Homo sapiens: one gene and its partners. The protein of the gene in region 4 purifies or fractionates together with the protein of the main gene of each other region. This does not show direct contact. Each region holds a gene or a part of one and is shown on either strand. Other genes may lie near its edges.

The links. The genes of interacting proteins can lie anywhere in the genome.
Region 1: the proteins of FAM234B (region 4) and LAPTM4A purify together in Homo sapiens (affinity purification with mass spectrometry; 2 studies listed by BioGRID and IntAct, with this or other methods). This does not show direct contact.
Region 2: the proteins of FAM234B (region 4) and NRSN2 purify together in Homo sapiens (affinity purification with mass spectrometry; 2 studies listed by BioGRID and IntAct, with this or other methods). This does not show direct contact.
Region 3: the proteins of FAM234B (region 4) and ARV1 purify together in Homo sapiens (affinity purification with mass spectrometry; 2 studies listed by BioGRID and IntAct, with this or other methods). This does not show direct contact.

The regions. Positions count from the first base shown.
Region 1 is NC_000002.12:20,043,866-20,049,113, reverse strand, and holds part of LAPTM4A (lysosomal-associated transmembrane protein 4A), read left to right. Parts: intron 1-5,248. UniProt on the Homo sapiens protein: May function in the transport of nucleosides and/or nucleoside derivatives between the cytosol and the lumen of an intracellular membrane-bound compartment.
Region 2 is NC_000020.11:352,252-356,625, reverse strand, and holds the end of NRSN2 (neurensin-2), read right to left. Parts: intron 3,417-4,374; coding exon 2,991-3,416; 3' UTR 1,764-2,990; downstream 1-1,763. UniProt on the Homo sapiens protein: May play a role in maintenance and/or transport of vesicles.
Region 3 is NC_000001.11:230,988,609-230,993,856, forward strand, and holds part of ARV1 (protein ARV1), read left to right. Parts: intron 1-1,501; coding exon 1,502-1,655; intron 1,656-1,967; coding exon of another isoform or gene 1,968-2,090; intron 2,091-5,248. UniProt on the Homo sapiens protein: Plays a role as a mediator in the endoplasmic reticulum (ER) cholesterol and bile acid homeostasis. Participates in sterol transport out of the ER and distribution into plasma membranes.
Region 4 is NC_000012.12:13,077,133-13,082,380, forward strand, and holds part of FAM234B (protein FAM234B), read left to right. Parts: intron 1-2,656; coding exon 2,657-2,877; intron 2,878-3,492; coding exon 3,493-3,498; 3' UTR 3,499-5,248.

The DNA of each region.
Region 1 (5,248 bases), on a different chromosome or scaffold from region 4:
AACTTGGAGCACAGATATGAAAAACATATGGTACAGTGATGAGGAGGAGGAGAAGGTGATCAGTAATATCAGATTCTAATCAGAATAAGTACTGGAAAAAGGCCATTGGTTTTGTTTATTATAGTTTTGTTGATGACTTTCAAAAGAGTAGCTTGAATACCATAGCAGTGTAAAGACAGTCTCTACCAACTTGGGGAGACATGTAACACTTATGATGCAAGACCACCTAAGCCAAACTGTAGTATAATACTTCGAAGCAAAGAAGGCTTGTCCAAGTAGTGCATTTTATTCTCAGAAGCTGCTTTACTAAGACAGAGAAACAATATGGGGATGAGTGAGTATTAAATGTCACTTCCCTCCCTACCTACCTTGTCAAGGTACTCTCTTGCTTGATTCCTGGTGAGGCAATAATTCAGTCTGCATGGGAGAATATTTATGTTTCTTTTTACATTACGTGGGACAGACTTCTGAGATGATGATTCCCCCTGTGTCATTTGGAACTTGGGGGAGCCCCTCTCCCTCGCTATCAGTGACTGTATCTGATACAGTCTCATTGCTTTCTAGCCACGGCTTCTACTGGTCTAGTGTTAAAGTATCGTAACACCATATACTAAAATATTCATTGTATGGTACAAAATAGTGCTGTGGGACATAGAGAAAGCCAGAACCAGTTATTATATGCACCGGAGGTACCAGCCCTGAAGTGTGAGCCTTTCGTATTTTAGCTAGAAAAGAAGCATACCTGGTTAAGTAACAGGAAATTTCAGAATGAGCTCATGTTTAAATTCTGGCATTCCTGAAATGGTTTTCTCTATCATTTATTGAAGAATTTGAAGCCAGTTGATTTTAAACAAGTTTCTTATGAGGTATAAACTCAAATGTTTATTGAATAATTGAAAATGGACTTAAAAGTGTGCTGTAGTAGATATACTTTGTGATTAATGGTGTGCACTACAAGACTACATTTTGAGCATTTGTAATAATTTTATCTCTTAGACTTAATATATGGCTAATTTTTCATGAGTGTCTCAACCATAAACAGTTTGAAGTTCTGTATCTGGGAGAGAAGTAAAAACAGGTTTCCTTAAGCTCTATTCCTTTCTAGCCCTCACCTCTGACTTCAAGTAAGCATAGCTTGTTTATATTTGTTAGTTTCCTTCCTTAAACTAAGGAAGTTTTGTGCCTCTGCCTTTGCATATGCTATTCCTTCTCCCTGAAATGTTGCTGTCCTCCCAAGTCACTTTCTAAAAATTTTATTAAGGAAATTTTCATACATACAAAAGTAGTGAAGTAGTACGAAAACCTCCCATTTATTCATCACCCAGCTTCAACCATTAACAACATTTTGCCAAGTCCAGATAATTTAATGGTTAGCTCACATGTTTTCGTGGTAAAACTTTCCTTTTTTTTTTTTTTTGAGACGGAGTCTCGCTCTGTCGCCCAGGCCGGACTGCGGACCGCAGTGGCGCAATCTCGGCTCACTGCAAGCTCCGCTTCCCGGGTTCACGCCATTCTCCTGCCTCAGCCTCCCGAGTAGCTGGGACTACAGGCGCCCGCCACCGCGCCCGGCTAATTTTTTGTATTTTTAGTAGAGACGGGGTTTCACCTTGTTAGCCAGGATGGTCTCGATCTCCTGACCTCATGATCCACCCGCCTCGGCCTCCCAAAGTGCTGGGATTACAGGCGTGAGCCACCGCGCCCGGCCTTTTTTTTTTTTTTTCTTTTTTGAGACAGAGTCTTGCTCTGTCACCAGGCTGGAGTGCAGTGGTGCGATCTCGGCTCACTGCAACCTCCGCCTCCCAGGTTCAAGCGATTCCTCTGCCCCAGCCTCCCAAATAGCTGGGACTACAGGCACCCGCCACCATGTCGGGCTAATTTTTTGTATTTTAGTAGAGACGGGGTTTCACCGTGTTGGCCGGGATTGTCTCGATCTCCTGACCTCATGATCTGCCTGCCTTGGCCTCCCAAAGTGCTGGGATTACAGGCGTGAGCTACCATGCCCAGCCAAGCTTTCTTTACTTCCTAGCCAGGGGGATCTGTTTTTCTCACGGTGCACCTGCAAAAGTTTCTGGATCCTTCTTGTATGTACTTATTAAATAGTACTCAGTACACATTGGTAGGATTGTCCTTTTCTCTTATTTTTCTCTCTACAGCAAGATGTTCTCCTGGAGGGAAGAGGGTGATGTCTTTATAAGGGCAGTGGCTCACGCCTGTAATCCCAGCATTTTGGGAGGCCAAGGCAGGTGGATTGCCCAGGAGTTCGAGACCAGCCTGAGCAACATGACGAAACCCCCTCTCTACCAAAAAAAAATATATATTATATTATATATATATTTATATATTATATTATATATATATTTATATAATATATATTTATATATAGATATATAATATATAAATATATATAAAACATATAAAAATATATATACACACACACATACATACATATATATATTAGCGGGGCATGGTGTGGTGGTGCATGCCTGTAGTCCCAGCTACAGGGGAGGCTGAAGTGGGAGGATCACTTGAGCCGGGGAGGCAGAGGTTGCAGTGAGCCTAGATCGCAGTAACTACTCTCCATCCTGGGTGACAGAATGAGACCCTGTCTCAAAATAAAATGTGTGTGATGGCTAACTTATTAATTAAAACATTTGAGGTGTTCATTACACATTTGTTGAATGAATGTCTCCTCCAAAAAATATTGTGAATACTCAGTTGTATCTGCATGTAACAGTAAACAACAACAAAAAACTTTTTTTTTTTAAATTATACTGTAAGTTCTAGGGTACATGTCCACAGCGTGCAGGTTTGTTGCATAGGTATACATGTGCCATGTTGGTTTGCTGCACCCATCAACTCATCATTTACATTAGTTATTTCTCCTAATGCTATCCCTCCCCCAGCCCGCCACCCGCTGACAGGCCCTGGTGTAGGTGTGTGATGTTCCCCACCCTGTGTCCAAGTGTTCTCATTGTTCAGTTCCCACCTATGAGTGAGAACATGCGGTGTTTGGTTTTCTGTCCTTGTAATAGTTTGCTGAGAATGATGGTTTCCAGCTTCATCCATGTCCCTGCAAAGGACATGAACTAATCCTTTTTTATGGCTAAAAAACGTTTTAAAGATAGTCAATTTTGATCTTTATCAGATAACAGGCTTTGCTTAGTTCTGTAGATTGACCCTCCTGTGGGTGCTTTCTCTGCATGGGAAGCCCTTATCTGGATGCCTCCTTAAACCAGACACACTGTTTTAATTATTATCTCAGTAGATACTGGCTCTGGGCAAATTACTGTGGGAAAACTGAAAAATGATTTTTTTTTTAAAGTCTCCAGAGAATCTTCTGGAATAGGTGTGGCAGTGAAAGAAGAAAACAAAGAATTCCTCTCTTCAGGCCCTGTGCTTCCATGGATCTGATACAGTTATTTTGTAACAAGTCAAATCTAACAGATTTCTTATTGTACACACTTACATAAGATGTAGAAGCTTTCAAAAACAATGCACACCACCTGATTTGACTGATTAAATTTACAGTACTGTTAACACATTGAGTGGTGAATCCGCAGCCCATGCTGCTAAAATATTGCTGCATTCTATACCTCTCCATATTGCCAAGTTTAGAAGTTAATAATTTAATCTTTTTTTTTTTTTTTTAAAGAGATGGGGTCTTGCTATGTTGCCTGTGCTGGTGTGCAATGGCATGATTATAGCACACTGCAGCCTTGAACTGGGCTCAAACAATCCTCCCACCTCAGGCACCTGACCAGCTGGGACTACAGGCACACACCACTGTCCCCAGCTTAATCATTCTTTTTAAATTACATTTTTATTAACTTTCTTTCCTGAATACAGTGAAAGGAAAAAGTGAATCAGGAATAAATATTTGTAATAGTTAGTACATAGTTGGATATTTTCAGAGAAATTTTGTATTGTAAGATTACAGTTAATTTTATGTATTTTTTGAAAAGCTAAACATGTAATTTAGAAATATCAACTTTAATCAGAGATAAGTTGCCAGGGCTTACATGTGAGCACAAGGTAGGCGTTCGTTGGTGAATATCTTTAAGATCAAAGGATGCCAGGAGCGGTGGCTCGTGCCTGTCATCCTAGCACTTTAGGAGGCCAATGCAGTAGGATCACTTGAGGCCAGGAGTTCAAGACCAGACTGGACAACATAGTGAGACTCCATCTCTACAAAAAAAATTTTTTTAAGTCACAAGGATGGGTTTTCCAGTGTAATACTTTAAGATGTAAGTTGGGGTTCTAATGAAATGATGTGATCTAATGGAATATAATTAACTCAAAGAAGATTTGGAAAAAGCTTTTAATGAAGTAGCATTGAAATTTATTTCACTGTTTCTTGGTCCTTCTGATTGGCCCTACGATTTATTTTGTTTAATATTTAGTGGTATGACCCACAGTGAAATTAAACTTGAAGTGTCTCTAGTACTAAAAGAAGATAATAGTGGATGAGCGTGTGACTTATCCATGGAAGAGAAGAAAAGTGAAGAGTTCTTTTGTTTTTTAAGAGACAGACTTAGTATTGTTGCCTAGGCTGGTCTCCAGAGCTCAGGCGATCCTTCCCACCTCAGCCTCCCAAGTAGCTGGGACTATAGGTGTGAGATTTTTAGAAATCCTTCATGTAATAAAAATATTTAAGAAGGGAAAATAGAACTCCTAAATGTTTTTGGCATGTCATTCCCTTCATTTAGTAATTGGGTTTGCATGCTTTTCTTGACAAAGGAATTTCTGTACCGCAGAGAGCTTTTTCACTGTGACTATGCTGTGTTTAGCAAAGAAGAGTTTGCCTAATTGATTTCAAACTGATTTCCATACACAGAACATATAACGTTTTAGTAGATATATCTGATAGTTCAGTAATTAATTCACCTAGTTGTATTAGCTCATACTCATACACCACACACGCTGGCCAAAACCCATTGCAGCAAATGTGGGCAACAAAAAAAATCAGCTTTCAACTGGGGAGAGCCACCTTGCAAAAGTGATTGTTCCTGGTAAGTCCTCTCAAGAATTGAAAGATATCATGCCTTGCCTCTGAACAATGCAAGGAAAGAGGCTTGCTGCTGAACATAGACAGTAAAGTCTAAACATTTTATAGCCTTAGATAATGGTTTCTTTGGGAAAGACCTTAAAATAGGAGTTACTGGGGAATGTTTATTAATAATCACGTAGTGCTGAGAAGGAGGATGTCTTAAAAACCAGACTTGTGTCCTGATTCTCCCATCTGTCAGCT
Region 2 (4,374 bases), on a different chromosome or scaffold from region 4:
AGGTTGTCGTCCTGGTTAAATGAATTCCCGAATTCTGTAAGGCACTAAGAACAAGGCCCAGCCCCTGGTGAGTGCCAAAAGGGGTTAATTACTCTTCCAGGCCTGGAAAAGATCTTACCTTTGGCTTCAGCCCCCTCTCCCACACCCTGGCCCTCACATTCCTTTCAGAACTAGAGGAAGTGTGTTCTCAAGGTGGCTGAGAAATCTCCTTCCCACCCAAAGACAGGAGCTCCACACTCAGGCAATAGGCCAATCAGGCTAAGCACTTTTTTTTTTTTTTTTTGAGACAGAGGCTTGCTCTGTTGCCCAGGCTGGAGTGCAATGGTGTGAACTTGGTTCACTGCAACCTCCACCACCCGGGTTCAAGCAATTCTCCTGCCTCAGTCTCCCGAGTAGCTGGGATTACAGGCATGCACCACCATGCTCAGCTAATTTTTGTATTTTTAGTAGTTATGGGGTTTTACCATGTTGGCCAGGCTGGTCTTGAACTCCTGACCTCAGGTGATCCACCCACCTCGGCCTCCCAAAGTCCTGGGATTACAGGCGTGAGCCACCTCGCCTGGCCCAGCCACCCCTCCAGGCCCTAGGCTGAGCATTTAAATCCACTGCAGGACTTGGGTGGAGCTGGAGGCCATTATCCTAAGTGAAGTAACTCAGGAACGGAAATCCAGATACGGTAGGTTCTCACTTATATAAGCGGAAGCTAAGCTATGAGGATGCATAGGCATACAGAGTGATATAACGAACTTTGGGGACTGAGTCCAGGGAGGTTGGGAGGGGATGAGGGATAAAAAACTGCGTATTGGGTACAGTATACACTGCTCAGGTGATAGGTGTACTAAAATCTCAGAATCACTATAGAACTAATTCATGTAACCAAAACCCACTTTGACCCCAAAGGCTACTGAAATAAAAAGAATTAAAAATAGGCCGGGCGCGGTGGCTCACGCCTGTAATCCCAGCACTTTGGGAGGCCGAGGCGGGCGGATCACGAGGTCAGGAGATTTGAGACCATGCTGGCTAACATGGTGAAACTCTGTCTCTACTAAAAATACAAAAAATTAGCTGGGTGTGTTGGCAGGCACCTGTAGTCCCAGCTACTCATAGTCCCAGCTACTTGGGAGGCTGAGGCAGGAGACTGGCATGAACCCGGGAGGCGGAGCTTGCAGTGAGCTGAGCTCGTGCCACTGCACTCCAGCCTGGGTGACAGAGCCAGACTCCGTCTCGAAAAAAATAAAAAAGAATTAAAAATAAAAATAAAAAATAAATCACTCACCTCTCTGATCATCAGTTACCGCATCTGTAAAATGAAGACAATAAGTCTGGGTAAGGTGGCTCACCCGGTAATCCCAGCACTTTGGGAGGCCGAGGCAGGCGGATCATTTGAGGTCAGGAGTTCAAGACCAGCCTGGCCAACATGGTAAAACCCCGTCTCCACTATAAATACAAAAATTAGCCAGGCGTGGTGGCGTGCACCTGTAATATCAGCTACTTGGGAGGCTGAGGCAGGAGAATTGGTTGAACCCAGGAGGCAGAGGTTGCAGTGAGCCAAGATCGCCCCACTGCATTCCAGCCTGGGCGACAGAGCGAGACAACATCTTAAAAAAAAAAAAAAGAAGACAATAATTCCTTTCTCAACAGGTTATCCTGAGGAGCGAATGAGAAATAATGGGTCGTGCCCAGCACACAGTAGGTGCTCCTGAGTCTGTGTCTTTCTCCTCCCCACGCCCCAGTGGCCAGGGAGAAAGGAAACAAAGTCAGTATCCATCCCAGCTGTTTATTGAAAGGGAAGGTGGGATGGAAGGGGTGCAGGATGAGGAGGGGGCGTGAGGCACAAGGACAGTAGGGTGTGCCCTGGTGGGGGCCGCCTGAGGATCCCCTAGGAGGCCCTTCAGGCTGGTGGAGACTGAAGGTAAGGGTTAGGGAGGGGAGGGGCGAGAGCCTTGAGCGCTGCTCTCCAGCTGCATCAGAGCTCCCTCTAGTGGTACAGAAGAGAGATGACGCCTCCGGCTGGGGAGGGAGGGGCTGGCGCCTCTGAGAGAGCCCATTTATTATCAGGGTCACGGCCAAGACCGTGGGCTTGGTTTCTAGGTAGGTGGACTTTGAGGGGCAAAGACAACCCACTTTTCCTGCCCCCTACCCCCGGCTCTTAGAGACCATTTAAATCCATATCCAAAGTATATCCAGAGCCACCTGGGACCATCAGGCCTCTGGCTAGTCTTTCTGGGCCAAACCTGTCCTCCACCCTGAGGACCCTCAGGGAACCAGGAAGGTGAGGGGCTGGCTCCGCCCCACCTGTAGCACAAGAGCTGGCCCAGGAGGAGGCTGAAGATGTGTTTCTAGTTCCTGCATGCTGCTTTGTTGTGTGACCTCGGACATGTCACCTCCAGCCTTCTTCACCCACCTCACCTATCAACTAGGGCTAGTAATTGCCTGTGGTGGGTGGGCTGGGGGGCTCTGATGCCAAAATGCAGGTAGAAGACACACTGTGAGAGGCAAACGTCTTCACTCATCCTGCAGGGAAAGGCCAAGTGAGCATCTGGGACCCATTCGAGCTGAATGACCCCCACCCCTTCATCTGTGTCTATGGAGGGCAGTGCGTGTCCTCATCCTGGCGAGAAGAGGAATCTGATCCAAAGCCCTCATGGCAGAGAGGCAGGAGCTGATGGCTTGAAAGGGCAAGGGTTTGCCCAAGGTCATGCAGAGGAAGGAGTGGGGACGGGTTGAAGGAGATGTTTTCTGCCCCTGAGGGCCTTGGGAAGAGGGTGTGGGTAGGAAGTTTTGGGAGGACTTGAGGAATGCTGGTATCTTGGAAGAGTTGGGGCCCCACTCCTGGGGAGGGAGCACTGGGATTTGAGCTCCAGATTTGACCTGGAGTTGGGCTCTAAAGGGACCCTGCTAAAAGGGAGAAGTTGGGGAAACACTGAGAGGGGGTTATGGTGAGAAGGGGGGAAGGATCCAGGACCCACATCTTAGGCCATGTGGGCAGCTCAGGAGTCCCTCTTGGGCTGGATAGTCTGCACAGAAGATTGCCCAAAGGGGCTGGCGGGTGGCGAGAACCATGACTGGCCACTGGCATTGCGGAAAATGGGTGACAACTGCTGCTCTGGCTCATCCCCGAAGACCTCCACGTGGCTGTCGGCTTCGGGGTCCAAGGGCTCTGCCTTGGTGTCCTGGCTCAGCCAGCCTATCATGGCCCAGAAGAGGCAGATGGCGAGCAGAACTCCAGCTGCCACACAGAGCGCTGTGCCTGCCAGGCGACAGGTGCCCAGGGCCTGGTTGTAGTCGGCTGCCCGCTGATCCAACACCAGGAACTCACCCTCACCGATGCCCTCCAGCTTGGGGGGCACTGCATAGCCAGTGGTCAGAGCCGCCACACCCAGCAGCAGAAGCAGGGTCCCCGAGGACAGGCTGATCTAGGGAGAAGCAGACAGACCAGGAAGCAGTCAGGGTCAGCCAGGGGCCCCTGGCCAAGGGATCACCTTGGATCCTCACCAGACTTAAGGGTAACCCCTTGATCCATCCTCAGGAGATGGGAATCACAGAACACACTTGCTGGGGTCTAACTGACAGGAGGCATAAACTGTCATGTTTTATTTGGAATCCTGAGGCCTCTTAATTTCCTTCCCAGCTCCCACCTAGCAGTGGGTTTCTCCGGCCAACCCTGTGTTTCCCTCCATCCCAACTCATCTCTTTATCCTTTCTACCTTCCTGTCTCTGTTGGGTTAACTCCTATGCACCATCAGATCTCATCTCAAACCTCACCTCCTCAGGGAGAAGACCCCTGGACTGAGTCAGGTCTCTTGCTTTACTCTGGGCAAACTGTGCCCATTCATTCTTCAATACACTTACCATTGTGCACACTTGGACATGTATTTTGGTTGCTATGTAAGTGACGTCTGCCTCTCCCGCAGTACTGAGAGCTCCATGAGAGCAGACTGTGCCTGTTTTGGCTCACTAGGAGTCTTCTGTGCCTAGCACGTGCCGGCACAGAGCAAAGGCTGAATAAATGTTTGCTGAATGATTAAATAAACCACAGCTAAAAGAGTTCCTCGAAGACAGGGACCTCATGTCTTAAATTCTGTGTTCCCAAGAGCCTAGCACAGTGCCTCGCAATAAGAAGATGCTTAAAAATTTTAAATACACACTAACCTTTCCTTGGAAGTCTTCCTTGATCATTTCCTCTCCTGGTGTTCCCTACAGACCTGACCTGAAGTTATGTAAGTTGGCCTCTCTGCAGAGGTTGGCACCTTACCTCCTCACTAGAGTGAAGTCCTTTGAAAGCAAAAGAAGGGACCCTCTGCCTCAGTCTCCCGAGAATATTTAGCAAAGAGCTATGCCCATAGCAGGCACTCAGCTCATTGCCACCTCTAC
Region 3 (5,248 bases), on a different chromosome or scaffold from region 4:
TGTTGATTTTGAAAGGTGCACAATGCTTAGTGAGTGTTTAAGAATATGGTCACTGGCAGGAAACTGACAAGCCATGATCTGAATTACCTGCTAGTAAATTGAAACAATCATCACTGGTTTTTAACAGAATACAATTAGACATATCCAGGTAGGGAGAGAATTATACCTAAATGAGTTAAGCAAACATTAAAAGAAAAATGTTTTTTTAAAACATAATTTATTGCATTTTATACTTTGCTATTAAAGGAATGTATAAGGTAAATAACATTCAGTTTAATCAAAGTCCTGATTTATAAAGTTGAATTTTTCAAAATAAACTTTTAGTTTATTGAATTGTGAGCTCTTTAATAGTTTGGGTAGAGTTGACAGATAACATACAGGACAGTCAATTAAATTTGAATTTCATATATACCATGAATTAATTTTTTAGTATAAGAATGTCCCAAATATTGCATGGAACATACTTATACAATAAAAATGGATTCATGGTGTGTGTGAAACTCAAATTTAACTGGCGGTCCTGTTATTTTATTTATTTATTTATTTTTGAGACGGAGTCTTGCTCTGTCACCCAGGCTGAAGTGCAGTGGCGTGATCTCGGCTCACTGCAGCCTCTACCTCCTGGGTTCAAGTGTTCTACTGCCTCAGCCTCCCAAGTAGCTGGGATTACAGGCACGCATCACCAAGCCCAGCTAATTTTTGTATTTCTAGTAGAGATGAGGTTCGCCATGTTGACCAGGCTAGTCTGGAATTCCTGACCTCAAGTGATCCTCCCACCTCAGCCTCCCAAAGTATTGGGATTACAGGCATGAGCTACTGTGCCCAGCTCTTCCTCACTTTATATTGATGGAGAAAGTTCAACCTGAAGGAGGAATACATAGAAAAAAGCCAATTTTTGTTGCCTAGTATTTTTTATTTTAGCCAAAATTTCAGACTTTTAAGAATTAGGTTTTAATTGTTCTCTTTTAACATATTGAGTCATACTCATCCAGCTGGAGATATTTTTAAAAAACTGATGTTCAGACTAATAGTTTCTTATTCAATATCATGGAATCTTCAGATTAAGTCTATTCTCTTATTGCTGTTCCCACATATACATGAATCACATAAGTTTTTTGCTTGATTCTGTATAAAGGACAGAAATCAAAAATGTATAATGAAAGGTGAACTATTATTTAAAGCAGTGATTCTTAACTAGGGGTGCACATTAGAATCCCCCCAGAACTGTTTCAAAGTATGATGTCTATGTTGTACTATGAAGATTCTCAATCAGGACCTGGGCTCAGACATTTAAATTTTGAAAAAAATCTCCCCATGTGCTTCTGATGGACATTGCTGATTAAAACTCACTGATTACAAAATGACTACAATTAGCCACTTAATTGGGCAGTCCTGAATTTGAAAAGTGACTAGGTGGGATGCCACAAATACTCTGTACCTGTTGATACTAGTGCAACTGGGTTTCCTTACCTAATTGAATGGCAATGTCTTTGACTATCAGATCCATGGAAAACTCTGCATATTTTGTTTGCTTTGTGAAGCATACCTGAGGTGGTGGCAGCTTCAAGATTCCAACCAGAATACTGCCCCTGATGACTTGATCAGATATGCTAAGGAATGGGATTTCTATAGAATGTTTGCGATTGCTGCTTTAGGTAAGGAGATGCCATGCTTTCCATTCTTAGTTAACTATTCTTACTTAACTAATCTGGTTAAAACTAAGACATGTAGTCTTAATTGTTGGTAAGAAGAGCTAGTTAATATGGGACTTAAGATGAAATTTTCAGCTCTACCACTACTAACCTACGAGGTGAGTGTGTTTGAATCACCTGCTTTTTAAAAATTTGTTACCACGTATATGGTATGGAAGTAGTTATGCTTATCGGATTAGAAAGTTTCATAAAATATTTCGAAGCACAATATTGTTGATAAAATTCTTTTATTTTTATTATTATATATTTTTTAAGACAGGGTCTCACTCTGTTGCCTAGGCTGGAGTGCAGTGGCACAGTCACAGCTCACTGCAGCCCTGAACTCCTGGGCTCAAGCAATCCTCCTGCCTCGGCCCCCCCAGGTAGCTGGAACCACAGGTATGCACCACCACACCATGCACCACCTCCAGCTAATTTTTGTATTTTTTTGTTGAGATGGGGGGTCTTTCCGTGTTGCCCAGGCTGGTCTTGAACTCCTGAACTCAAGCAGTCCTCCCACCTCAGCCTCCCAAAGTGCTGGGATTACAGGTGTGAGCCACTGTGCCTGGCCAATAAAATTCTTAATGTTTAAGTTTTGATTATCCAATCTGAAAGTTAGCTAAGTCCTATCTTTATTAATAGAGATAATTGCCAGACATTACCCAATGTATTGTACTAATTGCATTATACTAATGCAGTGTATTTAATAGGGTTTGGTATTTTTTGTTACTTGTTACTTATCTGAGTGCATGCAGGGAATTTGGCTACTCCTCAAAATTCCTTAAGTTCAGGAAGTGCTTTTCAGAATTTCACTTCATAAGTTATTGTTTTCCTAGTGTCAGAATTGTGTTGAGCTAATTTCTGTGACTATTTTATTGCTAGTTCCATGCTTCTCTGCTTCTCAACTCTTTGATTATAATGAAATCTTACTTTAGTAATACTAAGTCTCCAGTCCACTCCAATATCACATTTCTGGGCTGTGTGTCTTCTTTTGTCCTCTTTTTTTCTCTGTCTGCTCTCGCTCTCTTGGTCATGTAACCTGTCTGCTGAGAACTCTCAAATGTCCATCTAGACCTTTCTCCAGACCTCCAGACTCTGCATCCCTCTGCCTTCTCAACATCACCACTTGGATATCTAATAAATCACCATACCCATAATTGAGCTCCTCATCTCTCTGCCTCTACCACAGCCTTCTCCTTCTCAGTTGTAACTCCATTCTTTTAGTTGCATTCACCAGAAAACCTTGCAGTCATCCCTGATGCCTCTTTCTTTGATACCCCATAGTCAGGTCATCAGGAAATCCCATTGGCTCCACCTTCAAAGTACTTCTACTTTTTTTTTTTTTTTTTTGAGACGGAGTCTCACTCTGTCGCCCAGGCTGGAGTGCAGTGGCGCGGTCTTGACTCACTGCAACCTCTGCCTCCTGGGTTCAAGCAGTTCTCCTGCCTTAGCCTCCCGAGTAGCTGGGATTACAGGCACGTGCCACCATGCTTAGCTAATTTTTGTATTTTTAGTAGAGACGGCTTCACCATGTTGGTCAGGCTGGTCTCGAACTTCTGACCTCGTGATCCGTCCGCCTCTGCCTCCCAAAGTGCTGGGATTACAGGCATGAGCCACTGCGCCCAGCCACACTTCTACTATTATACTACTGCTACCCTCCATTCCCTCCACGGCTGCCACACTGTTGCAGGCCACTCTCATCCTTCACCTGCATGACTACAGTAGCCTCCTTGTTTGCTAGCCCAGTTCTCCAACTGTGTATTTGCACGCAACACAGAGTAGTCCTTTTCAACCAAATCAGATCATGTCACTGTTGTGCTAGAACACAGTAGCTCCCCGTTTCACTCAGAGTGCAAGCTGAAGTCTTTACAGTGGGCCTTGTACTGGAATCTGCCCCTCCCACTGCGTCTCTCATTTTATCCACAGCTGTCATCTCCCATGTCTACTCTGACCCTCCCCATCTAGTTAACTTGCTTCAGAAACACTGGATGAGCTTCCACCTTAAGGCCTTTGAAGTGGCTCTTCCTGTGCCCGGAATGCCTGTCCCCCTGATGCCCAGATGTCTGACTCCTGCATACCCCTCAAGAGTTGGCTAAAATGACACTTTCTAAATGAAGTGTACCTCTGACACTCCTGATCTCCTGTTCCGGCTCTACTTTGTTTTTCTTATGGTACTTACTATTTAACATATCACAGAAGTTATTATCTTTTGTTAGTGCCTTTCCCCACTAACATGTCAACTGAATGAGGTCAGGGCTCTTTGTGTTAGTCACGGTTGTAGCTCAAGCACTTAGGTGCCTGGCCCAGGTGCTTAATAAATATTTGCTCAGCTGATTGAATGAATGATTGCATACATTCATCCACGCACTCTTAACTTGAGCAAGTCACCATCAGTTACACTCGGTGATTATTCATTCACTATTCATTATTATTCATTCCCTTAAGAAATATTTTTAAATACTTATTAGGTGCCAGTTACTACTTTAGGTACTTTAGGTACTAGAGATATATCCATGGAAAATACATAGAAAAATCTCCGCCTCCATTATTATGTAATTACTAAGGCTTATGACAGCTTAACCGCCATGATGTCCAGTCTATCGATAATTTTGTATACAATTTGGACTTTGCAACAATTTAAAATATTTGAAATATACAAAAGAATATGTTAACCTTTTTATCTTATGAAACATAATACTACTGAAAACATCCTTGAGCACATCATCTAGCCCAAGAACTAGAACCTAATATGATTTTAAACCTTAAAGCAAAGCCTCTTAAAAATTTTTTTTAATTTTTATTTTTTTAAGAGTGAAGGTCTTGCTCTGTCACCGAGGCTAGGGTGCAGTGGCACAGTCATAGCTCACTGCAGCCTGGAGCTCCTGGGCTCAAGGGATCCCCCTGCCTCCGTCTCCTGAGTAGCTGGAACTACAGGTACATGCTACTGTGCCTGGCTAATTTAAAAAAAAAAATTTATGTAAAGGCAGTATCTTACTCTGTTGTCCAGGTTGGTCTTGAACTCCTGGGCTCAAACAGTCCTCCCATATGGGCCTCCCAAAGTGCTGAGACTGCAGGCATCAGCCACTGTTCCTGGCCCTTCTTAAAATTTCTAAAGATAAACTGTTATATGTCCATATTTTGTATATACTATTAAAAACCAGGCTTGTTTTTAAATGGGTTGGAATTCTTATAGCAACTACTCTGTAGTAGATATTTTGATGCTTAATCAGAAGTTTCTTTCTACTATTACTTAACTTTTTTATGTGTCTTAGTCTAATCCCTAATTAGACTGTATAGTCCAAAAGAATATCTTGGCCGGGCGTGGTACCTCACACCTGTAATCCCAGCACTTTGGGAGGCCAAGACAGGTGGATTACTTGAGCTCGGAAGTTGGAAACCAGCCTGGGCAACATGGCAATATTCTGTCTCTACAAAAAATACAAAAATTAGCTGGGCATGGTGGCATGTGCCTGTAGTCCTAGCTACTTGAGGGGCAGAGACAGGAGGATCGCTTGAGCCCAGGAGGTCAAAGCTGCAGTGAGTCATGTTCATGCCAC
Region 4 (5,248 bases):
AATCCTGTGATTAGATCTGAGTGAGCTGTTTTTTCAACAGTAGCATAAAATATTCAGTGAACATCAAATAATGGTAATTAAGAATCTTGACACCATTTTTATTACAACTTGTATTTTATTTTATTTATTCATTTTTTAAATTTTATTATTATTATACTTTAAGGTTTAGGGTACATGTGCACAATGTGCAGGTTAGTTACATATGTATACATGTGCCATGCTGGTGTGCTGCACCCATTAACTCGTCATCTAGCATTAGGTATATCTCCTAATGCTATCCCTCCCCCCTCCCCCCCACCCCACAACAGTCCCCAGAGTGTGATGTTCCCCTTCTTGTGTCCATGTGTTCTCATTGTTCTATTCCCACCTATGAGTGAGAACATGCGGTGTTTGGTTTTTTGTCCTTGCGATAGTTTACTGAGAATGATGATTTCTAATTTCATCCATGTCCCTACAAAGGACATGAACTCATCATTTTTTATGGCTGCATAGTATTCCATGGTGTATATGTGCCACATTTTCTTAATCCAGTCTATCATTGTTGGACATTTGGGTTGGTTCCAAGTCTTTGCTATTGTGAATAGTGCCGCAATAAATATACGTGTGCATGTGTCTTTATGGCAGCATGATTTATAGTCTTTTGGGTATATACCCAGTAATGGGATGGCTGGGTCAAATGGTATTTCTAGTTCTAGATCCCTGAGGAATCGCCACACTGACTTCCACAATGGTTGAACTAGTTTACAGTCCCAACAGTGTAAAAGTATTCCTATTTCTCCACATCCTCTCCAGCACCTGTTGTTTCCTGACTTTTTAATGATTGCCATTCTAACTGGTGTGAGATGGTATCTCATTGTGGTTTTGATTTGCATTTCTCTGATGGCCAGTGATGGTGAGCATTTTTTCATGTGTTTTTTGGCTGCATAAATGTCTTCTTTTGAGAAGTGTCTGTTCATGTCCTTCGCCCACTTGTTGATGGGGTTGTTTGTTTTTTTCTTGTAAATTTGTTGGAGTTCACTGTAGATTCTGGATATTAGCCCTTTGTCAGATGAGTAGGTTGCGAAAATTTTCTCCCATTTTGTAGGTTGCCTGTTCACTCTGATGGTAGTTTCTTTTGCTGTGCAGAAGCTCTTTAGTTTAATTAGATCCCGTTTGTCAATTTTGTCTTTTGTTGCCATTGCTTTTGGTGTTTTAGACATGAAGTCCTTGCCCATGCCTATGTCCTGAATGGTAATGCCTAGGTTTCTTTCTAGGGTTTTTATGGTTTTAGGTCTAACGTTTAAGTCCACAGCCAATATCCTACTGAATGGGCAAAAACTGGAAGCATTCCCTTTGAAAACTGGCATAAGACAGGGATGCCCTCTCTCACCACTCCTATTCAACATAGTGTTGGAAGTTCTGGCTAGGGCAGTTAGGCAAGAGAAGGAAATAAAGGGTATTCAATTAGGAAAAGAGGAAGTCAAATTGTCCATGTTTGCAGATGACATGATTGCATATCTAGAAAACCCCATTGTCTCAGCCCAAAATCTCCTTAAGCTGATAAGCAACTTCAGCAAAGTCTCAGGATACAAAATCAATGTACAAAAATCACAGGCATTCTTATACACCAATAACAGACAAACAGAGAGCCATATCATGAGTGAACTCCCATTCACAATTGCTTCAAAGAGAATAAAAGACCTAGGAATCCAACTTACAAGGGACATGAAGGACCTCTTCAAGGAGAACTACAAACCACTGCTCAAGGAAATAAAAGAGGATACAAACAAATGGAAGAACATTCCATGCTCATGGGTAGGAAGAATCAATATCGTGAAAATGGCCATACTGCCCAAGGTAATTTACAGATTCAATGCCATCCCCATCAAGCTACCAATGACTTTCTTCACAGAATTGGAAAAAACTACTTTAAAGTTCATATGGAACCAAAAAAGAGCCCGTATCACCAAGTCAATCCTAAGCCAAAAGAACAAAGCTGGAGGCATCACGCTACCTGACTTCAAACTATACTACAAGGCTACAGTAACCAAAACAGCATGGTATTGGTACCAAAACAGAGATATAGATCAATGGAACAGAACAGAGCCCTCAGAAATAACGCTGCATACCTACAACTATCTGATCTTTGACAAACCTGAGAAAAACAAGCAATGGAGAAAGGATTCCCTATTTAATAAATGGTGCTGGGAAAACTGGCTAGCCATATGTAGAAAGCTGAAACTGGATCCCTTCCTTACACCTTATACAACTTGTATTTTAAAGATAAGGCAAAATAAACACTGGCAAGGTAAATCGCCTCTGTGACTGCGCACTGACAGTCTGGGAATTCTCAGGCTCCCTAGTGTTTCGGGCTTGCTTTTCTACTGAATTCTTGCCACAAGGGGCACATTCTCTCAGTTCCTGAGTTGGGCTTTTTTGGAAATAGCTTCAGAGGAGTAAAGGTGCAAAGACCAGGAAGAATGTGCTGCTTTACTGGCGTCCAGTCCTTCCCCTCTTTGCACCCGTGGGCTAGCTCACTGCCTTCTGTTTATTCAGTGCTCAGTACATTTCCTGTATGAACTTATGAGTAAATAAATGTATTGTTGAACCAAACCCCTCTCCTGTTAGTGGACGGTATGTGTCCATGTTAACTGCTCTTGTTTTTGTCCTTCCTCAGTTGGAATTAACGACCTCTGGAAAGATGCCTTTTATGTTACCAGGACAACAGGGCCAAGCTCCGAAGGCCATCCAGCAGCCCTGGTGGTCAGCAAGCTTAGTCTACGGTGGGCACTAATGGAGGGCCAGATGGCTCAGCTACAGGAGTCCACCCCCAAAATTGGCCGTGGGGAGCTGCGAAGATTTCTCTCTAGGATAAAGTTTGTTGAAGCTCCCTACGAGGTGAGTGGCTGCAGAAATATTGTTCCTCTTGAGGGTTTAGGACAAATACTACCAATTCCAGCTTTGTCTTTAGAAAGTAGGCAGAATGGGGAACTTTCTTGAGTAGATGTGTATCAAGACAGTTGTTTTGGACCAACACTGTTTCCTATGGATGCCTTCTGACCATGAAGAAATGATTCTCAATTGTTTTCAGCTGGAAATAATAGCATCTTCCTTAGGGGACATTTGACAATGTGGGGTCGTGGTTTTTATTGTCCCAATGACTGACAGGGGTGGCTACGACTGGTATTTTCTGGGTTGGGGCTAGTGATGCTAACATCATGCAGGGCTTGTAGCAGTTACATACTACAAAGAATCATCTTGCTCAAAATGCTAATGTTCCCTCCCCATCCCCACTCCCAAGAAATATTATAGTCTAGTGCAAAGTTCAAAAGCTTATCATGGAAAATAACAAAGTTTCTGGGCCTTTCTGGAAGGAGGAAATGTTTACAGACTATTGGAGCTAAAGAAAAGGACGGGAAAATAGAGAAATATTCTGACCTTTAGTTTTCCTGCTTTTCTTTGAACATCTCTACCATGAAAAACAATAAAGTCACGATAACTCTTTTTCCATAGATCTAATCTGATGGAATCTTCAGTTGCAGAAGAAGTGAACAGAGTGGATACCCTCTCTACTCTCCTGTCACTGTAAAATCAGTTCTATGGAGAGAAGACTTCTTCGTCCTCATTTACCACCTCCCTGATGGTTGCAAAGGCTTGGGAAGGCATGTTGGAGTCTTTGACGGCAGCATGATCTATTTGGCTGGGGCATCTTACCTACCTTTTCAGTCCCTGCATTAATCCCCTCTAGGAACTCTGCGTGGATCGTTTGGAAATGTGAATCTCTTAAGTATTTAATTTTTTTGGTATGTCTAATTTATGAAGTCTTGCTGGGAAAGCCAGTGAAGTCTATGACTAGGAAACATTTTGTTGTACATTGTGCTGTGTGTGTGTATATTTTAGTGTTGTGGTGAAGTTATTTTCCAGGTATGTCCTAAGCTTCAGGGATCCAGTTTCTTGTCCTTCTGAAATATATCTGGTTTGTTTGGTCATTTTGAGACTTCCAGATGCCCTACCTCTGATGTTGAGGGCCACTTATTTCTCTCCTTATTCTTTCCCACCTGTACCTTGGCTACTTCCAAATTGTAGACAGAATGAGAAAGATTTATAGTGGAAGACTGAGTTAGCCATCCAAGCATTTTCATCTCTCTTGTTTTATATCCTATTTCCTTAGATTTTCCATCCATGTCTATTAAGTGACCACAAGAATAACTATATTCCTATCACAAGGGGAGCAAGAGGATGTAGTCTCAGTGACCCATCTCTGACCAAGTCCACATGTTGTGTTATATGTGGCTCTGATGGTTCTGCCAGTCATGATCTTTTTTCTGTGGCGACATCAGAAGTGTATGTTTGCATGCTGTCTTCAACTTAGAGGAGAACTGGAAGTCAGGAGCCTTTGATGTCCTTATCCTGCTGTATGTCTTCTCTGCATCTTTTTCTATAGGGCACCCTCCTTAGCTCCCCTCACTCTGTTTTCTCTTCTATTCAGGGATATGTTTCTGGACTTTTTCTTCTGCTACTTGAGTCCAGGATGCAACCATTTTGTCCTGCATCTCTTCTTTCCTGTAGAGCCTTTGAAGCATTGTATTTTGGGAAAATTCTTCTGTAAATACTATAACTTTTATAAATGGTTAAGTTATTTAGAATTATCTCCAGTGCTTACTTCTCCCTTCTTCTGTATAAATCTGCTACTTCAATTAAGTTCTCCTCTAAACTTTTAGGTCATTGTTTATATAGCAGAAAATTCAATGTTAGCGGATGGAAAACTGCTTCTTGAATAACCTTGATAGGTCATCCCTGAGTGCACCTCAGGTTCTCTCTTTACCTGGGCTTGTATCTTTTTTTTTTTTTTTTTTTTTTTTTTGAGACAGAGTTTTGCTCTTGTCGCCCAGGCTGGAGTGCAGTGGCACAATCTCGGCTCACTGCAACCTTCGCCTCCTGGGTTCAAGCGATTCTCCAGCCTTAGCCTCCCAAGTAGCTGGGACTACAGGTGCCCGCTACCATGCCTGGCTAATTTTTTTTTTTGTATTTTTAGTAGAGACGGGGTTTCACCATGTTGGCCAGGCTGGTCACGAACTCCTGACCTCAGATAATCCACCTGCTTCTGCCTCCCAAAGTGCTGGGATTACAGGCGTGAGCCACCATGCCCGGCTGGGCTTGTATCTTTTAGCTTGTGTTAGTAAAAGGATTCTAGAAAATTATGAAGTCCAGATTCAAAGGGATCTCTGTTAATTACCCACTGACAGGCATTATGACCTAACAGGAGGTT